4 linked regions of the Homo sapiens genome follow. The protein of the gene in region 3 purifies or fractionates together with the protein of the main gene of each other region. This does not show direct contact. Each region holds a gene or a part of one and is shown on either strand. Other genes may lie near its edges.

The links.
Region 1: the proteins of SNRK (region 3) and MME purify together in Homo sapiens (affinity purification with mass spectrometry; one large-scale study listed by BioGRID and IntAct). This does not show direct contact.
Region 2: the proteins of SNRK (region 3) and MYH2 purify together in Homo sapiens (affinity purification with mass spectrometry; one large-scale study listed by BioGRID and IntAct). This does not show direct contact.
Region 4: the proteins of SNRK (region 3) and MYH1 purify together in Homo sapiens (affinity purification with mass spectrometry; one large-scale study listed by BioGRID and IntAct). This does not show direct contact.

Annotation. Positions count from the first base shown.
Region 1 is NC_000003.12:155,114,819-155,119,748, reverse strand, and holds part of MME (neprilysin), read right to left. Parts: intron 4,756-4,930; coding exon 4,594-4,755; intron 3,271-4,593; coding exon 3,190-3,270; intron 3,086-3,189; coding exon 2,990-3,085; intron 2,882-2,989; coding exon 2,763-2,881; intron 1,004-2,762; coding exon 938-1,003; intron 1-937. UniProt on the Homo sapiens protein: Thermolysin-like specificity, but is almost confined on acting on polypeptides of up to 30 amino acids. Biologically important in the destruction of opioid peptides such as Met- and Leu-enkephalins by cleavage of a Gly-Phe bond.
Region 2 is NC_000017.11:10,532,248-10,537,177, forward strand, and holds part of MYH2 (myosin-2), read right to left. Parts: intron 4,360-4,930; coding exon 4,283-4,359; intron 3,119-4,282; coding exon 3,031-3,118; intron 2,944-3,030; coding exon 2,826-2,943; intron 1,386-2,825; coding exon 1,262-1,385; intron 1,175-1,261; coding exon 1,038-1,174; intron 1-1,037. UniProt on the Homo sapiens protein: Myosins are actin-based motor molecules with ATPase activity essential for muscle contraction.
Region 3 is NC_000003.12:43,284,636-43,290,141, reverse strand, and holds the start of SNRK (SNF-related serine/threonine-protein kinase), read right to left. Parts: upstream 3,603-5,506; 5' UTR 3,467-3,602; exon of another isoform or gene 3,334-3,466; intron 403-3,333; exon of another isoform or gene 353-402; intron 1-352. UniProt on the Homo sapiens protein: May play a role in hematopoietic cell proliferation or differentiation. Potential mediator of neuronal apoptosis.
Region 4 is NC_000017.11:10,494,040-10,498,969, forward strand, and holds part of MYH1 (myosin-1), read right to left. Parts: intron 4,784-4,930; coding exon 4,587-4,783; intron 3,879-4,586; coding exon 3,695-3,878; intron 3,414-3,694; coding exon 3,248-3,413; intron 3,155-3,247; coding exon 3,030-3,154; intron 2,511-3,029; coding exon 2,202-2,510; intron 2,115-2,201; coding exon 1,911-2,114; intron 1,279-1,910; coding exon 1,153-1,278; intron 1,063-1,152; coding exon 892-1,062; intron 635-891; coding exon 530-634; intron 411-529; coding exon 315-410; intron 1-314. UniProt on the Homo sapiens protein: Required for normal hearing. It plays a role in cochlear amplification of auditory stimuli, likely through the positive regulation of prestin (SLC26A5) activity and outer hair cell (OHC) electromotility.

The sequences.
Region 1 (4,930 bases), about 110 Mb from region 3:
GATGAGTTCATGTCCTTTGTAGGGACATGGATGAAATTGGAAATCATTCTCAGTAAACTATCGCAAGAACAAAAAACCAAACACCGCATATTCTCACTCATAGGTGGGAATTGAACAATGAGATCACATGGACACAGGAAGGGGAATATCACACTCTGGGGACTGTGGTGGGGTGGGGGGAGGGGGGAGGGATAGCATTGGGAGATATACCTAATGCTAGATGACGAGTTAGTGGGTGCAGCGCACCAGCATGGCACATGTATACATATGTAACTAACCTGCACAATGTGCACATGTACCCTAAAACTTAAAGTATAATAAAAAAAAAAAAAAAAAAAGAGCACGTGAACATCAGCCCAAGGGAGGCAAGGTTGTGAGACAATAAGAAAGCACTCCAGAACATCCAAACGTCCACTATGGGATATGATGCCCACTGGCTACCTGGCCAATGTTAGAGTCACAAGGTAGCTGCAAAAGTTTGTCTGAGCCCAATGTCACTACCTGCATAGTTCTCTGACAGTCAAATCAGATGGTTCCAGAAGGATGCTGCAGAGTGTATCTCTCACTGACCCTCTGGTCCTCACCAGCACCACCCTAGACCATGATAAATCTTTTCATTTTTTAAATAATGCAGTTTACAGGTGGATTAAAATATTTTAAATTAACTTTTCAAAATCGATCATATGTTTTAAATACTAAAAACCAAGATACAAATAAGGAATTTCAAGTTTCCTAGTTTTGTAAAATACCTTCATTCATTCTATTGAGAATGTTCATTCTATCAAAGACAGCTCACTATTATGTGTGATTTTAAGTCCCTGTCATGAATGAAAAACATCAGAGGGCTAAATTTAATTTGGCTTTATCTTTTTCATTACTTGTAGGTTTACACCAGATCATTTTGTAGTTTGGTTTTGATTATTTTTTTTCTTTTTACCTCTTTATAGATTCCAGTGCATTCATAGTAATCTCTAGAAGGGAGGCCAAGTCGAGGTTGGTCAATCTATAAAAAATATACATAAAAGAAAATAAATCATTCAGTGAATATAGAAAAGTTTGAAAAATACAAGCATGTCTATCTATGTATGTGAAAGATCCTACTCTTGCTGTTTATGGGGTGACCATCAGACACTCAATAAATACCTAGTTAGGAAATGCTTTCTACACTACTTGTAAGTGTTATACTAACGGGCAGTTAGATAATCTGGAGGACTGTGCTGCAGATATTTAAGGAAAACAAAAGAAAGTGAACAAAAGATTTACTAGGAGGGATTTTTAATGCAGAGCAGAAGGTGCAAGTGAACAAAAACATGTTAGATTCTAGGACGTGGAAATTTCTAAATTACATATTCACAGATTTCTCAGCTTCCTGAGATTCTAATGTGCTCCCCTGGGAACATTCTCATCTGCTTCCACCCTTAGTTGGGATCCCCTTTCATTGGTGGGAGTGGGTTAATATTCTTCAAGTTGATTTGGATGGATGGGGAGAAGGGGAGAAGTGGAAAACCTCTAAGGTAACTCCAGAATCTTTTAGCTAATGTAACTTGTGCCAGAAAATGTTTTTTAAGATTCTCTACCCTAAGGGAATGGAGGCGACTTCTCCTTGGTTCTCCTCAAAGCTGCTCTGCTCAGAAGAACCTCAGTAGACCCAGATAGCAGTTAAGGGTGTGAAAGAGGAAACTCAGTTTTGCGCTAACGTGTCTGGTCCATGTTTAATACCCAAGTGGGAGCTATCTGGGCATACTGCAGCTTTGCAAGATTGTTTCCTACTCACTGCATGGCAACATGAGTGTGGAGGCCAAACAGAGCATTTCTGGGTTAAAGAGAGAATCCTAGCAGCTGTGGAGAGCCTAGGCCAATAGAAAAGAAAACATAACCCAAAGAACTGGTATGGAAAGAGCCAGAAGATATCTCCACATGAAGGGCCCTGATCCTTCCCCACCCCCTGGTCCTCAAGGTGATCCTGCAAGGAGAAAGTTTCAGAAGAGAGAGAGCCCACTGCAGGAGATTTGGGTTCAATTCCTTTCATGATTTTAACAAAAACGACCATAAAGATTTATGCAATAGTGACACAGATATGATTAGGTGATTCAGTAGCCTGCAATTTTTTGTATAATTTCTTACACAGGAAACCAAAAAAAAAAAAAAACAAAAAAAAAAAGGAAGAAAGAAAAACTCTTTATATTTTTCAGTACATTCCAAACATAGTCATTAATCTAGTCTTAGGTGACACCTAAATCAAATTGTTTACATTTGTAAAAATACAATAAATCCATTTTAAAAGAAAGGCATTTTATTTACCTTTAGTTGAGAAAAAAGTACAGATACTCTTTAGTGAGGAAAAAAATGATGTTTAAAATCCCTTTTCTGTGTTCTTTTTGAAAGCAATTATTATTTTTTGGTTTCTAGACCTGCATTACTTCTATAAACGAAAGCATGCTCCTTTCAAGTACTATACAAAGAAATTAGGAACTTTTTCTGAATAGGAGGGGCCTGGAGCCCTTCTTATCATTTGTTTTGTGAAGGGAGAGGTATCTAAAACAGAGGTAGCAGAAGCAAGGGGTGAATGTCGAAAACAGCATTAAGAAAATACTTTCAAAATTGGAACTCCAGGTATTAGGGACAGAGCATGGATATACTACCTCCTTGCTTATTCAATTCAATTGAAAATAGCATTATTTCTAAATATCAATAACAACAATGTATGTGGAAGTTTTATTACAATTTAAAGGTAACTTTAGTTATTTGACACACAAACTTACATGAATTACATGATTCACAGAATTCTTATCATCAGTGCCAACAAACAAATTAATAAGGACTTTTTTCCCATATTTAGAATTCAGTTGTGCAATAGCTTTTTCAGCTGTCCAAGAAGCACCTAAAGCAATAAAAGATAAAATATATCTTTAGAAGCTTTAGTTCACTAATGATATTATAACATAGATTTTACATGGAAATTTCTTTTTTAGTAGGAAAATTGCCTTACCATATTTTTGCTCCCAGTTTTCTGTTGCTACTGGCCACCCATATATGTCTGGTAACAGTTTGAGTAGAGGTTCTCCACCTCTGCTATCAATAGCAGCTTTTGGAAACAACAAACATAAATTCAATTAGAAATCTAGGCATAGTTTGGCACCAATATATATATATATATACTCCTAATGAAATCAAATGAAGAGCACTTACATTCATTTATACAAGACCTGTACAATGCTTTTGCTTTCTGCACTGCTACTATATCTTCAGTTTTGGGTTCTTGAAGGACATCTGAAATAGGACATTTAATAAAATGCATCAACATAATTGCTCATTTGCACTATGCAAACATAATTGCTCATTTGCAGTAATTAACATTTGCAAAGTGGGTTCAGTTAAAAAAAAACCTTGCTTTTCTGGAGGTACATTCATTTCCTCCCCCCAGTTCCAAAACATTATAGGAAAAACCAAACCCCTTACCAGATTATCATTCCTAGCACAGAACTGGGAGTCAGTTTAATCAGCCAATTTAGATGAAAGTCCTTTTGACTAGATTATCTTTTTTTTTTTTTTATGAACAGTGATGCATACGGCTCTGCCATAGGTAACAGTTACTTTTCTTGAAATTGAGATTAAAAAAAAACAATAACACAGAGGAATTTGGAATTTAGTATGAATAGTCTTTTTGATGGCTGGAAAATAATTATCTTTGTGTGACTGTACCGTTCATGCTCCAAATGAATGAATTGAATTGTCCTACTTGTTTCAATGTTAAAAAGTAGCAAAAATTGTTCTTCTACAAAATAACTTCTAGAAGAGGGGAGAACAGAGAACAAAGGATAGGAGGGACTTGGCTAGATTTCTTAACTTCTCAGGGAGACAGTCTTAGCCAGGTTAGAATATACCTGTGCTGGGAAGGCAAATCTTAGTAACATCTTACAGTAACTTTAACACAGGGTTTGGGTAGGGAGACTACAGAAGTAGGTTTCTGTGCCAATCATTTAATTTTTTTTCTTCTGTAAAATGGCATAAAACTACCATCTTGGCTGGGCATAGTGGCTCACACCTGTAATCCCAGCACTTTGGGAGGCCAAGGCTGGTGGATCACCTGAGGTCAGTTCAAGACCAGCTTGGCCAACATGGTGAAACCCCGTCCCTACTAAAAATACAAAAATTAGCTGGGTGTAATGGCAGGTGCCTACAATCCCAGCTACTTGGGAGGCTGAGGCAGGAGAATTGCTTAAATCTGGGAGGCAGAAGTTGCAGTGAGCCGAGATAGCACCATTGCACTCCAGCCTGGGTGACAAGAGCAAAACTCCATCTCAAAAAACAAACAAACAAACAAACAAAAAACCAAACCTGCCATCTCTAGAGATGATACCGCTTTATTATTTGCATACCTACAAATGAAAGCAGGAATGCTAAGAGATGTCAACACATTAATTTCAGTGTCTGCCACTATCAGAGTGACTTGGTGGTGGTACACAAATCCTGGAAGGATTATTAACTTTTTAATCTTCTGTGACATTCCTTGTAATGGCTAACAATTGTATATTTAAAAAATGAACATATTAAGAGAGAAATCTTTGATGCACAGACACAATCTCTACTAACCTTTCAAAACGACTTCTAGTTCATCTCTTAAAATGTCAAAGTTGCCGTAACGGGAGCTGGTCTCGGGAATGACATTACGTTTCAACCAGCCTCCGCAAGCATATTTGAAAAAGTCTGTACAAGGCTCAGTGGTGGCATCCATGTTTTGGATCAGTCGAGCAGCTGCAAGAGCAGAGAAAACACTAGATAAAATGATGGGTTTATTTCTTAAGAGGCTTAAAAGGAGAAAAAGGCTTATTGCTCCCTTTTGATTGCATCAATTTGTCGGATGCTCCGTTTTCTTTTTTATATAAGTCAATTCAGGGGGATGAGGAATACTATCTGTGTATAGTTCTCT
Region 2 (4,930 bases), on a different chromosome or scaffold from region 3:
CCTTTGAGAAGCCTTGCTGTATGTCAGTGCTTCTCAAACATTGCTACTAAAACACCACTAAGGGCAGTGAAGGGGGAACACAGCTCTTTAGGGGTATATGGGGCAGGAGATATTAAAAACTCAGAATTTCTTAGAAAATATCTGGCTTTATATGTTAATGTTGTGTGAATTTTGTATTCTATTCTCTAATACCACTTTTGTTTTCATCTAAATGATTTTTACAGCTAATTACCCCATATATAGACAATTACCCAAATATATATATATCGTGGATCATGACCAAAATTTATTATTTTTAATAAAATGGAATATAGTTGAAAATATTAGCATAATTACAAGTGGTAAAAATAAAATTTGCTTCATATAAATTATTTATATATCTGCATACACATATGTATATGTGTAGATGTATAGGTGGCAATGTAAAATGCCTTTCTCAACATGGAGAAATGGTCCTGATCACAGACATCCTGTACTTTGAGACACCTGGCTCTATAGTCTTTGAACTCTGTCCTTGCATCAAATTAGATCACCAAATAGCTACATTCCCTGATGCATTGTGTTAACTTACTGCAAAAAGTCTTTCACAGATAAATGGCCCCTAATATTTTAAATCATGAGAGTTTGATAATATAAATGATCAGAGGGAAAAAGTTGTCTCTACAGCCTGTGTAAAAGCACTCTTGAGTATACTGTCTGTTTTGCAGGTCAATGTCCCTTATCTAATGATCTGTCCAATAAATTCATATTAGAAACAGGTGCTAGGGCAAAAGTTTGCTTCTGCTTACTCACTGGTGTATTTTATCTTATTAGATAAGAAGTACACACTTCTTACCTAACTTCTCAAGTTTTTACCCATGCAATCAGATGGTGATGGTTCCTTCCTTAAGTTTTCTGGTACATGTGTATTCCCACTTCATTATAGGACTCTTATTCATTTCTTCTTTAGTGTCCTTATCATAAGCTGAGTCTTAACTGTAAGCCATTTCAAATATGTTTTTGAAGATGGAATATGTGAATAAACATATTTTTTATACCTTCTCTCCACCATCCTCTGGTACTCCACTCTTGCCAAGAACCCTCTGCACCTGGCCTGGGTTCGGGTAATCAGCTGGGCCAGCTTGTCATCTCGCATCTCCTCTAGGAGCCCCAGAAGACCAGCTTTGAAAAAGACCTGTGAATGGAAAGAGTTGCAAATCACAAGCTTTAATAAAGTTCAAAGGGACAGGAATAGCATCAGGTAGGATTTACAGAAAATTACCTTGGTGTGCCCAAATTTATACTGGGTGTGGTCAATGTCGATGGATGCAAGGAGCTTCTCAGAGGCCTTCTTGCTATCAATGAATTGCCCTTCAGGGATTGCACTTGCATTTAATACCTTGTATCTGTTGAAGTACATATAGCTTTTAACAACTAGTTTACTGATGACACAAATGCTAGCTAAACATTAAATGATTCATTTTTTAAAGCAGAGCTTTAAAAAAATATTATTCTTTGTTCACAAGGAGAACATTGTTTATTTGAATGGTCAACCCTTTGGCAACCAATTTTTATTCCATTTGCCTTTCCCTCGCAGTTGCAACTTTCCTTTCTGTCTCATCAGACCCTGTTCTTAGAAAAGGGTTCTGCCTTAAGAAAGGGACACATTATGGTGTGCCTAACCAATAAAATGTAATCTGTTATCTTTACTAGATGCATTTGCTTTTTAAGGCCCTGAATCCAAGAAAGCTACTTTTCATTGAAGAATTTGGTAGACAGTACACTTTAGGTATTCAGAACTATCCTAATCACCTAAAATCAAACTTAGACATGCTTTGGATCTTGAGCCCTGGAATCCTCTGTCAGTGCCACCTGACCCAGACCTGGGAGAGATCAGCTCCTAGCAGCTGCTACCCAGTCCTTCCCCACCTCTGCCTTTTCTTTGATTCTCAAGATGGGCTTATCTAGAGAGGAGAAAAGGGACCTGAGGAACAGTCATTGTGACATGTTCCCTCTGCCTCCAGGAAACCCTGGGAGTCTAATATGTGGGAGAAAAAGACGAACATAGATGATACCAAAGGAAATGACAGAAAATGAATAGCTATGTTTGTATGGAAGAGTTTCTAACTCAACCACTTAATAACTGTGACTTTGGGCAAGTACCTTAATTTCCCTGAGCCTCAGCTTATTCATCTATAAAGTGAAGTCTTAATAGTACCTACTTGCACTGTGTTTTTGCGAGGATTAAACAAGATAATCTGAACATATTAAGCACTCAAAAAGGTCGTTCTTAATTATTATTGGAGTTAACGTGTGCATCTATGAGCTAAGCTAAGTGCCTGATAAATCCAATGAAAATTCCACAAGGTGCTTAAAATTTTGTATATTTATATTTTAAAAGTATTTGAGGCTGGGCATGGTGGCTCATGCCTGTAATCCCAAAACTTTTGGAGGCCAAGGCTGGCGGATGACCTGAGGTCAGGAGTTTGAGACTAGCCTGGCCAGCATGGTGAAACCCCATCTGTACTAAAAATGCAAAAATTAGCTGGGCGTGGTGGCATATGCCTGTAGTCCCAGCTACTTGGGAGGCTGAGGCAGGAGAATCGCTTGAACCCAGGAGGCAGAGGTTGCAGTGAACTGAGATCACGCCATTGCACTCCAGCCTGGGTGACAGAGCAAGACTTTGTCTCAAAACAAAAGTGTTCGAGACTTGAGACTTGTAATTTTTTTACTTCTTTTTGTGACAAAACTAACAAGTAGAGGCATATGTTTCACTAAATTGTTTTGCTTGCATTAAACTTGTTCATATTAAACTTCAGAATACACCATAATCAGGAGAAACTGACCTCTGTTTGAAGTCTGCATAAAGGATTCTGCTTGGAAATCCTTTCCTACAGATGCGGATGCCTTCCAGCACACCGTTACACCTCAGCTGGTGGAGGACAAGCTCATGCTCCATGGCACCTAAAAATGCATATTTATTTCACTGCAGAGCTGTTGAAAAGGAGGTGTGGCAGTCATCCTTTGCACTTTCATTATGGAATTTCTTACCAGGAGTTTTTGTCTCATTGGGGATGATACACCTCACAAAGTGAGGATGGGTACTCCTGAGGTTGGTCATCAGCTTGTTCAAATTCTCCTGTAAAACCAGGAAAAATCCTGTCATTTTAGGCTCTAGACATGGATATGAGCAGTCATTGGTGTCTATAAAATCAATATCTATAGCTGAGTTGAATGACCAGTATGGACTGCATTCATATAAGGCAACACTTTGAATGCTTCTTCTGAGATGCTTTTTCCTCCTCAATAGATCTTTCTGCACTTGAGTTTCCGAGAGTTACACACAGAACAAGGAAAGCATCCTGGCATGTGCTTCTTTTCAGTTTATGCCAACACCATCCTTTCTACCCTGGTCCCTGGCCATACACATACATTTACAAGGCCATTGCCTTCCCATGCGAGATGATCGCTCTTTCTTCTACCAAATTCCATAGTTCTCCAATAAGGAAATGGAAGCCTGCACCACATTTGGACGTTTTCCTTATAATACAGCTCCTCTTTTCCAGCTCTATCAATTTTTAGGGGATAGAGATTATCTACAGGGGAGCAATCCTACCAATTATAATTGAAAATTGACTCGATTAAGAGCAAGGATACCATATTAGCTGCACTGCAGATTTGCTGCTAGAATTCATGAGTTCATTAGCCATACTGATGTCTTTTAGTCTCTCTGAGTTCATGTCATTGCTCTTTTTCATGGCTCAGCTAGATTATGAATGGCAGAGTATTATGGTCTATAAGATTTTCTATAAAATATTTCTCATTATTTGACTTAGCATGAAAAGTGAACTAATAATTTCTGAGTAATTTAAATCCCTTCTTTCCAAAGTTAGATCAACAGAGTCACTAGTTACTATCAGTCCTTTTCTAAACTACTCATGGAATGATCTTGTACTTTTAAAAGCAAATTTTATGCATTGGGTACAGTGTACACTGCTCTGGTGATGGGTGCACCAAAATCTCAGAAATCACCACTAAAGAACTTATGCATGTAACCCAACACCACCTGTTCCCCAAAACCTATTGAAATAAAAAATAAATTTAAAAAAAGAAAAGACGAGGGGAATTTTGCCCAGCGAGATGTCAAAGCATATTACAAAGTAATTTTAATAAATGTAATGTGATATTAGTATATGAATAGATAAATATATCCTTAGAACAAAAATAGAAGTTCAGAAAAACAGACCCATGTAAAAAAAATCCCAAAGTAATTGGAGAATGTCAAAAACAATTTCTTCCTTACTCTGAAAAGGGCAGACACTGTCTGGAAAGAAGAGCCCTTCTTCTTACCACCTTTCTTGGCCCCTCCACCAGCTCCCTCTGAAGAAAAAGGAAGAAAAGAAATACTGTTTTGAATTGGCAGGGCTACTTCTTGCGTATTTGCTGATTTCTGTGTTCATCGAGTGGAGCCTTTTTTCTACCCAGCTGGCCTCTCTGATTGAGCCTGAATGAATCTTATTTTTCAACTAAGTTTGCAGCCACTTATCTGTGATTCTTTCTCCAGTGGGAAATGAGGCCAGGGATATTCACCTGACCGTATAGAGAGGGATTCCCTAATATTAGGACATGTGAGGAGCTAACTTCAAAAATCATCAATAGAAGCTAGTACTGAGAGGTGGAAGTTTGTCACTCTGTTGCCTAAGATTTATACCCTCAGATACTCTATATATCCTGCAGATGTGGAGGAAGAAGTAGGAGAGAATCGTAGAAGCTGAGGCTTTTCATTGGTTGAGAGCCTGATAATCCTCTCTGACTCTGCAATAGGGCTCCTGTCAGCAGTGGAGTGAGCCACAAATGTATAATTACAAGGCTGCCTATCTATTCAATACTTGGAGGAACCAGGGGCTTGGTCTGCAACCCTTCTGCCAGACCTAAGAGATCACTAGCTTCA
Region 3 (5,506 bases):
ATTATGGGTTTAAGAGAGATAACTGCAGGTCAACAATTAAGAAATTGAGGCCCAGTGAGGCTGCGATTTGACCACCGTTATGTTGTGTAATCCAGGTTCCTGGAGCATTTTTGTCATAACCTACATTAAACGGTCCAGGCAAATATTAGTCAAGAGGGTATGTGTTTAGATGTGCAGATAGACCTAATCTTGCTTTGGGCCTGAAGATACTCCAAAACTTAAAACATGTTAGATGAACAACTAATGATCTCTGAGTCTGAAGTAACTTTTGAGTAGCCACATGGCAGCAGACTAGGGGGCATAATAGCAAAAGGAAAGGGAAAGAGGCCTGATTTGCCATGGAACAGCCTACCTGAGCAGAGGCCAAATGCTGGGGATGCCAAAGCAGACTCTCAGGAGGCTCTGGAAGTGACAGCAGAGAAATAAATGTTCAGGGAGGGCAAAGCAGGAATCCTCTTTAGACAGGTTCCTTCCCTACCACCAGCAAGAAATGGTTTCCCATGAGACACAGAGCCACAACCCAAAGCAGATGTGCAGAAAAGCAGATGAGGATCAATGACGTAGCTCTGGATTATCCAGAGCAGACAACACAGTTCCAGTGCTCACTCGTGAGGCCATTAAATCTGAGGAATTTTATACCAGCTCTTCCCAAAGTTAAAACAAAACAAAACAAACACCTCACCAAAATCCTTCTCCTCCATCCCCCAAAGCAACTGCCCCATTTCCCTCCTTCCTTTTCAAATGCTTTAAGGAAAGAACAGTTGCATTGTCTCAGCCTTCTCAACTCCCTTTCACCCACTTGGATCTATGTTCTTCTCCCACCCACCACTTGACCTTGTCTTCTCACCCTCCCTGAACCCCCTGAGCCTTTTCCCTTTTTCTCTGCCTGGGAATTCTTCCTATTCTTCAAGACCAGTTTAACCATCACCTCCTCTGTGAAGCATTTCCATGTCAGGTTGTTCACTGCCGCCATCCTTGTGCTTCTGCAGGTTTTTCCCTATGCCTCACCACAGTTCATCTGTTCGTACTGTTACTGTTTACCTTGGTGTTCCCCAGTAGCTTCTAAGAACCTACAGTCAGGAACTGGTTTTTATTCACTTTTCTACTGCTGCCCTCCCTCTACCCTAGGGCCACCAAAAGAGACACACAAACATTCCATGAATAAATGATCAAAGGTTAAGTTTATCTTCAGAACTGCTAGGATCCACTCAATTTTTCCACCTAAGTTGTTCTAAGTTTACCTGCACATAGATACACACTGGGAAATACCTAAATTCTGAATAACAGTTTTCTTACTAAAGCATCTTAGTTATAAACACTCTATCTTTAAGCAAACAGCTGGGATGCAGTTACATTAAGTCTAGAGTTTCTCATCTACGGTTTTTAATTCCTAAGATTCTGGCCTATGGAAAGTTCATTTGTACCCTTTTCTTCTTGGGCAGTGTAAAGAGCTCTTAGGATTAGACAAGCTGCTACAGGGAAGAAATCATGTCTTATTTATACCAGTACTTAGAACCATGGCTGCTCAGTATCTCCAGAAATAAATATTTTTCTATTTGGTTTCACTTTCTGTATGAGGGAAGTACTCACAGTGAAGTTCAGATGAACAGTATTTCCTGTGACCAGTAAAAATATCACGAAAGCCCTTCAATTTTAATAAGGACATTTAAAAGCCTTTCTTTTAGGATTATGTGATTAAATCTAAACCATAAAGACCCAACCTATACTTCTGGTCTAGAAAAATAAAATTAGTACAACTTCTGAGTTCTAGCATGTTTTAGACTAATGGATCTTACTGCAGTAAAACAGAAAAAAATACTCAGAATTATTAAAAAATACGGTGAGAGTAATTTTTGTGCACAAAATGAACAATTAAAAACTGATTATACAAATTTAAAAAAAAATTGAAAGGTGGCACTGAAAGTTTCCTGCCTGAAAAGCCTTCAGGATGAGAGTATTATAAAAAGTTAGCACTGTGCACCTGACTTTCTACACTGCTTCAATATGTGACCTTGGAAATGTCATGTAATTTCTCTCATTTCTAGTTCTGTAAAATGGGAATGTCCACCTGTTCTCCTCTCAAGGACAATTACACAGATAATCAGATTAAAAATTTGGTATTTGGTGTTCTTTAAAAAAAGAAACTTGTCTAATTAGTATGCTTTAATCATCACTTGTACAGTACATTCCTCTTCAAGAATCCAATTCCAAGAGAAATATTTAAGCAGACGTTGAGGACAGATTTCCTTAAGGGAATTATTTTATAAATCTGGAAAGCAATGTAACGAGATTATAAATTAACAAACTGATTACATAAGCCTTGACAACCCGGGCTTTAAAGTACACTGCTGTATATATTCTGATAAGTTAAAGACTGGTTTGGGACATAGTGCTCCAATCCCATACAAGGAGCCCAAACTCAGGCATTTCATGTTTGATAGGAACTTGGTGGAGATTCAACAGGATGTCCAACACTTGCAAGCCATGCTTCACCTTAAAACCTGACAAAATGTTTAAGGCATTAAGTCAACTTTACCACGGTTCCTAAGACTTTAAGAATGCACATAATTAAAGGGAAGGGGGGTGGAAAGTAACATGACAGTTTGAAAGGTCCCATATCCTCAGACCTCTATAGATTTAGGAACTCCACTGCTAAATTCTCCCCAAAGCCTGAAACTCCCTATGAAACTACTGGACTGTATGCGATCCAACAGTTACAAATAGCACAGCTCCAAGAACCCCGAAGATAAAAGGCTGCCACTTTCCTGCAACCCAAGTCCAAGTAAAAGGCAGGAAGGTCCCTGTAAAATGGACCAGAAAGAAATCAACAGGCGATGACTATGGAAAAGAACGTAGATTTCCCAGTCTCCCAGTCTGCAAAAATTCTAGCTCTCCCTCGGGAATGGCACTGCTCCTCTTTCCTTACCCCTTTGCCCTTTCTCTACAGACAACATCCCCACTCTATTGTAAAGCAGTTTGACCACGGAACCCTTTTGCTGAGGCCGGATTTCTACAGTCTTCTGAAAGGGGAAAACGCATTCAAAGAACACACACCCTACCAAGCGCCCAGGGCGCGGGGCCCCGCGGGCGCCGCACTCGGCCCGCTCCGGGGCGGGGCGCGGGGATGCGGGCGCCTTCCGAGGTGCCGCAATCCCGCCGCGGCCGCAAGGGCAGGGCCTCCAGGCGACCGCGGCCGCCGCCGCAGTGACGGCTCCCGCCGGGCCCCGCCGCCGCCCCGCCGCCAGGCCGCGCCGCGGGGTCCGGGCCACCGCAGCCCGGGCCCCGCGTCCTCCCGGGCCGCGCGCTGCGGCCGGCGCCGAGAGCGCAACTTACTTTCCGCCTGCGGCGAGCGCCCCGGCCCGGGCGCCCAGCCCGGCAACAGCGGAGGCTACTGAGGCGGCGGAGGCCGGCCCCGCACCCCTGCCTACGGCCGCCGCGCCCCGCCGCGCTCCGCGCTCGCCCCTACCTCAGCCGGCAGGCGAGCGTCCGTCCGCAGCGGCCGCGGCGCCGACAACTCCCTCCCGGCCGCCGAAACCCCGCACCCAGCGCTAATCATAATACCGAGCGGGCTGCCGGCCGCGGGGAGGGGGTGCCGGGTAGCTGCGCCTGCGCGGGCTGCGCGTCACTGTGACGTCAGCGCTGGGGCGGGGCCGCGGGAAGGGCAGGGCGGGGCGGCGCGCACCTGCGGCCGGCGCGCGGGCTGCTGGAGGGCATCCTGGCGGCTTTCTGACCCCGGCGAGTCGGGGCTGAGGCGGCTGGCGGGACAAAGCGGGCAAGGCGCCCAAGGAGGATGGAGGACGGGGGAGGAGGAAGCACCAGGGACACGGAACAATGGCCGGGAAAAAGTAGCGCGAGCTGTCAGGGGAAATCGGAGGGAAGGGACCGCGTCTGTACAGGACTGCGTCTTGGCGGCAGGGGGCAGGGAGCCGCACGCGCTTTACTCTTTGGTTCCCGCCCAGGTTTAAACAAGGATAAAAAAATTGTAAAAATACATATACATACACACATGCACATATGTATATACATATATATACATAATATGATTTTTTTCTCTGTAGTTTCTTCTCCCTGGGACTCTAATTTGAAAAAATTCGGTTGATTTTGTTGTTATTTAAGCAAAATTGGAAAAGCCCAACATCTGAATGCAGTGCTGGCCTTAAAGGTCAGCGGGAGACACAGGCCCTGCTAGGCAGCCTCTGGCAACAGCATAGAAAAGTAAACGGTCGTGGGGACACATCAAAGCACGTGAAGTCAGAGATTCAAAACACGCCGGGCATTAACCATAGCCCTTGATGGTTCAGTGGTATGGTCGCCAGGCCAGGTTGCTCTGGAAGGGAGCTTAGGGATGGCCGCAGAGGGTGGGAGGGGACTCCCGACTCCCACCCCTGGAAGCATGGCATGCAATAGAGACCAGCTCTTCAGGGTTCCTGGAAGGGAACACCAACAAACCAGACGCCAGATTTCTTCAACCTGCTTTTCCCCTTCTGTTCCCACGTTGTGTCCACCCTTCCCCAAGAAAGGACCCCTAGCAAGGAAGGACACAAGCCAGAAGAGCTGCGGAGATGCTGCAGGCTTGGTTGAATTGACTGGACTGCGAAGAGAAATCTAGATGGTTTTAGCAAATCTCTGTTGACCTGCAAATGTCAAAAGCCTTTTAGCTTCTATGCATCAACTTTGCATGTCTGAAGATGATTGGGAAGCAGGAGTGGATTGTTGGGAGGTGCAAACAGTTTGATTCTTAGGGTAATAACATAGGGTTTTCTGATCAAGGGGACTCCCAGTTACCCTAATACCCTTGCATCAGGTGGTGGGAGAGCACCAGGGAAAGCCTCAGATTAGGCCTCTGCGCCTTAGGGTCCCACCTGGGATCACTCTGACCTGAAAAGACCATAAAAGAGTCATCTCATTTTGACATGGAAATCGTAACTGTAGCAGCATATTAAGCAAGAGCTCCTAACTTGGATTTGTAGAATTTGTCCTTTTGTTGCTAGAAATCAGGAAGACCATGCACTTTTCTCCTCAGGGAGATATCACTATTCAGGGAACTCTGTAGCCAACTAAAGGGAGAAAATACCACTGTAATGGTCTCCCAAGGGATTTCCAGTGGTCGAAGGCCTCCACCCCTGGGTCTGTAGTCCCTGAGTTATATCAGTAACTACAGAACAATGACGATAATATATAAGCTCTTGAAAAATAAAGTATTTATATTGCTGCTGTTTAACTAGGTTTTGAATAAATTTTCTAAGGAAAACAAGGCATAAAAGAGCAAAACAAATGAAAAAGGGCAAAATAATAAATTGATTTAAATGAAGTTGGCTGCAATACTCTTCTAGAGAAGGACGCAGTACTGGCCACATGGTAAATCATTTATTCATCCCCAGTATTTCTTGGGTAGCTGAAGTGCTGCTGGCAAGAATATGACCCAGTTTTGGTTCCACACCATAAATGTGGTGACATGATTTGATTATGCTTCGGCAATATTTTAAGATATTCAAGTACAAATTAA
Region 4 (4,930 bases), on a different chromosome or scaffold from region 3:
CATGGCCTGGAAGACCCTATGAGCTGCCTCCTGCCTGGCTCTCCAGTCCCAGTTGTGGTGCTTTCCTCCTTTTTTTGTCTGCTTCTTGAGCCAGACTCTTTCCCACTCAAAAGCTTTGCATTTGCTCTTCCCCATCTCTAGAACATCTTCTGCTGGCTTGTCAGGTGGTTGGTTTTACCTCAGCCTTGGACCTCCATGTAGCCATTTGTTTTCTTTTGATCCTTCCTCATTTTACTCATCTTTTCTTTTGTCACTTTAACTAAACTGGCCTGGTCATGTCTGAGAAAAATCACCCCAAGGGGTTGTGAACTCACCGCTTCTTCAGCTTGTCTCTTGTAGGATTTCACCTTTGCTTGCAGTTTGTCCACCAGGTCCTGGAGCCTGAGAATATTCTTGCGGTCTTCCTCAGTCTGAAATAATGTTTTCAAGAGTAAGTTTCTTGAAAGTACAAATATTACATTTTGTCATACATATGACTTTTAATCCCATGTGGACTAAAGTGAAAACCTAGACAGGCCATTTTCCTTACTTGGTAAGTGAGTTCCTTCACTTTTCTCTCATGTTTGCGTAGACCCTTGACAGCTTCAACATTGCGCTTCTGTTCACTTTCAACTTCACCTTCAAGTTCACGAACCTACAAGAAGATGGACATTTTAAGGACATTCATTTGACGAATTTCTACTTCTTCACATGACCCACATACTTCTTCTACTCTGCTTTATATGTAGTTTTTAATGCCCTAGTTCAGTTTTCCTTATTATGAGCTTTTGGGCATGAGGGAATAGCTCTCCCTCATCTCAGTATGCCCCACATCATCTAGCAGTGCTAGGTATTCAGAATCGTGTGTTGGATTGGAATGAGATAGAAATACATGCTGATTAGGAGACCCACCCTGGCCTCCAGTTTCTGGATCTGCTTCTTCCCACCCTTCAGGGCCAGCTGCTCAGCCTCATCCAGACGATGCTGCAGGTCCTTCACCGTCTGTTCCAGGTTCTTCTTCATCCGCTCCAGATGGGCGCTGGTGTCCTGTTCCTTCTTCAGCTCCTCAGCCATCATGGCAGCCTAATTAGCAGTAAAACAGAATGGGTTAAGACAGCTAAGACAGCACATTAAGATTTAAGTTTGACCACCACTGTGTTACCCTTCACTCACATCAGTGATGGCCTTCTTGGCCTTCTCTTCTGCATTGCGGGCTTCCTGGATGATGTCTTCCATCTCTCCCTGGATTTGGGAAATGTCTGTCTCCAGCTTCTTCTTGGTGTTGATCAGGCTGGTGTTCTGTTTAAAATGTGAAATTTAGAAATATTAGGCACATGAGAGAAAAATTAGGAAACCTCATGTTCTAATGAACCATAAACTAATTAACTAAATGAATTCATTAATATTCCTCCTTGTTTCATAAATTATCTGAGTTGACATATGTTTAAAAGACAATCAACTGGCCGGGCGCGGTGGCTCATGCTTGTAATCCCAGCACTTTGGGAGGCCGAGGCGGGTGGATTACGAGATCAGGAGATCAAGACCATCCTGGCTAACACGGTGAAACCCCGTCTCCACTAAAAATACAAAAAATTAGCCGGGCGTGGTGGCGGGCGCCTGTAGTCCCAGGTACTCCGGAGGCTGAGGCAGGAGAATGGCGTGAGCCCGGGAGGTGGAGCTTGCAGCGAGCCGAGGTTGCGCCACTGCACTCCAGCCTGAGCGACAGAGCGAGACTCCGTCTCAAAAAAAAAAAAAAAATCAACTATGGATGTTATAGTTCAGATAAGAATATAGATAATCAAAAAAATAAAATATTTTAAACTTTATCCTTCATGAAATCTTATAAATAGATTTCTTAATAGTACCACGATTTCAGCAAGAATGTCATTTTCATACCCTTGTATTTGTTGCTATTCTATTATTACATGCACCTGGGTGTGCAGGAGCTGAACACGCTCACTGGCATCCAGGAGCTCCTGTTCTGCGATTTTCCTGCTCCTCTCTGTCTGTTCCAGAGTGGCCCGCAGCTCCTCGATCTCAGCCTGCAGCAGGTTGGCTCTGCGCTCCACCATAGCCAGCTGTTCCTTCAGGTCCTCCTGGCTCCGGAGAGCATCATCCAGGTGGAGCTGGGTATCCTGTGGAACAAACCGTCATTGAGACACCATGTATTCAGGGTTGCAGGCACCCCAATTGTCCTGGGATCATCTGTTGGACATATTTACCTTGAGGATGGCTTGGGTGTTCCTATAGTTCCTCAGGGCCTCAGCAGCCATGCGGTTGGCATGGTTCAGCTGGATTTCCATTTCATTGAGGTCTCCCTCCATCTTCTTCTTGAGCCTAATGGCATCATTCCTGCTCCTGATCTCAGCATCCAGTGTGCTCTGCATGGACTCCACGATTCTAATGTGGTTTCTCTTCATCTGGTCAATTTCCTCATCTTTTTCAGCAATTTTCCTATCAACCTCAGACTTGACTTGGTTCAACTCAAGCTGGATGCGCAGGATCTTTCCCTCTTCATGTTCAAGAGATGCCTTAATGACAGCAAGAGGTGACATTAGTAGAGTAATGGAAGTGTGTAGTATTCTAGAGATAAGAATGATTTATCATTCATGAAACCTTATTTATAAATAGATTTCTAAGTAGTAGTAAGATTTAAACAAGAGTGTCATTTTCATGCCTTTGCATTTTCTTGCTATTCTCTAACACACACACTGTCTGCCTTTGTGCTGCCATCATACATTTTTATTTTGTTGTTTTAGACATTTCTACAAATTATTGAATGTTATTGTTGATTTTATATGCTTTTATCTCCCTAGGTAGATTGTGCCCTTGAAAGCAGGGCCTTTAACTGATTCATCTTTGTTTGCTCAGTGTGTAGCACAGTTCCTGACATATGGTTATGTTGGTTGTATGCATGATCAGTTCTCCATTCTCATCCCTAGTTCATGGAGCAAAAATTATTTTTCGTTTCTCTTGATTCACCATTCCTTACATTTAATAGACCCCAATTCCTCTTCTAATTGTTTTAGAGTATGCAATAAAATGCTTACCTCTGCCTCCTCTAAGGCAGCCTGAAGTTCAGACTTTTCTTGCTCAACTTGCTTCTTTATTTTTTCCAGTTCATGGATGCGCTTTCCTCCTTCTGCAATCTGTTCAGTGAGATCAGAAATCTCCTCTGTTGGTGAACAAAAAATATAGAAATTTGTTTATAGTTGGAAAAGATTCTTTCAAATCTTTTATTGTTAAAGAAAAGGTAAAATGTTCTCACGTTGCAAATTCTTATTTTCCCGTTTCAAGGTTTCAAGTTGGTCTAAAGATTCCTCATAAGCATTCTTAATCTTAAATAGTTCTGTGCTGAGTGAGCGGGATTCCTTTTGAGAAGCTTCAAGTTCAGCATGAGTTTCTTCACACTTCTGTTTCCATTCTGCCAGGATCTGAAGGTCAAGGAATGGACAAGAAATTTAGTGGACAAAATTTGATGAGATAAAAACCATCTATTCTAGCACCTCTCAGAGTTGAGGTGTTCTGGGACTGAAAAAAAATTATGAATGAGAAGAATAGAAACCATAGGAGCACTTCCCCTCTCCACAGACAGCTGCTGATGGGTTAAGAGCTACTGAGAACAGCCCTCAGATGGTTTGAATTGGGCACACTGAAGGTAGCAGGCTATTGTTAATTCTGTGTTGAAAGTTGAAGCAAAAACTGGAGAGAATACCTTATCAAAGTTCCTTTGCTTTTTGTCCAGGGCGGCACAGGCAGCATTTGTCCTCTCAACATCAATCATGAGGTCCTCAACTTCATTCTGGAGCCTCTGCTTCGTCTTCTCAAGGGAAGCACATTTGGCATTCACAGCTTCTACATGTTCCTCAGCATCCTGCAGACGCTGAGCCAGCTTCTTCCTATGAAATATGGGCAATAAAAGTGAATGGCTGTCAACTGAATTGGGTGTTTCAAAGTGGGTACAAGAGAGTGAATTCCACAATCAGACTTCTTTAATACTTTGCTTCTCAAGCTTGTTTTGTAGGTCCAGTTCTATATTAACTCATTCCCATTATCCTACCACCAAATACCAAAAACAACCCCAGTTTTGGTATTGCCATACTTCATAGAGTGGCTTTAAGGCCATCCATGACAAGCATGAGCTAACACTTTACCCTTCCAGGTAGCTGGTTTATTCCTCTTCTGTAGAATATTAATATCTACCTTGAATTACTGGTTTGTTTTTCTGTGTCTCCACATAATTTTAATCCCCAGAGGGAGAGTCTGTACTGTACTAATCTTTGTATTCTTGTAGGCTGTCCAACATATTAAGGGCTCAAATGTTGGATAAATTGAATTCAAATGAAATATACTTGATTTTGTCTGTCTAATTGTATCCCTTATTTGTGCTAGTTTTTAATTAATCCATTAATAATAAAGAAGCTTTCCCACATCAATATACATTTTGCATCGAGAACTCCTCTCAGAATCTCTTCTAAGGCATCTACCAAAACATTAATTCCAACAATATGGCTGTATATGGTCCCAGAATGTTTTTTCCCTAGTTTTTCATATGTTTTGGGAGCAAGGAAACTTATAGTTCCATTTTAACTAAGTCTGGAACATACTTGGCCTCCTCCAGCTCCTCTGTGCGCTGGATGGCATCTGTCTCATATTTGGTCCTCCACTGGGCAACCTCACTGTTGGCCTTGGACATTGCTCTCTGTAGCTCGGCCTTGGCTTCCTGCTCCTCCTCATACTGTTCCCGCAGCAGGTCACAGTCATGGCGGGAGGACTGCAGGGCATGTGCCAGGGCACTCTTGGCCTGAGAACATAGAGATTGATGACTTAATTTTATATATTTAAAGTGATGTTTGATTCCTGATCTCCTATAGGCCACCAGAAGAAAGTCTGTAAAAGTAAGCGAAAAACAAATAACAAGAACAATAATGACAAGAATGACAAGTGGAGC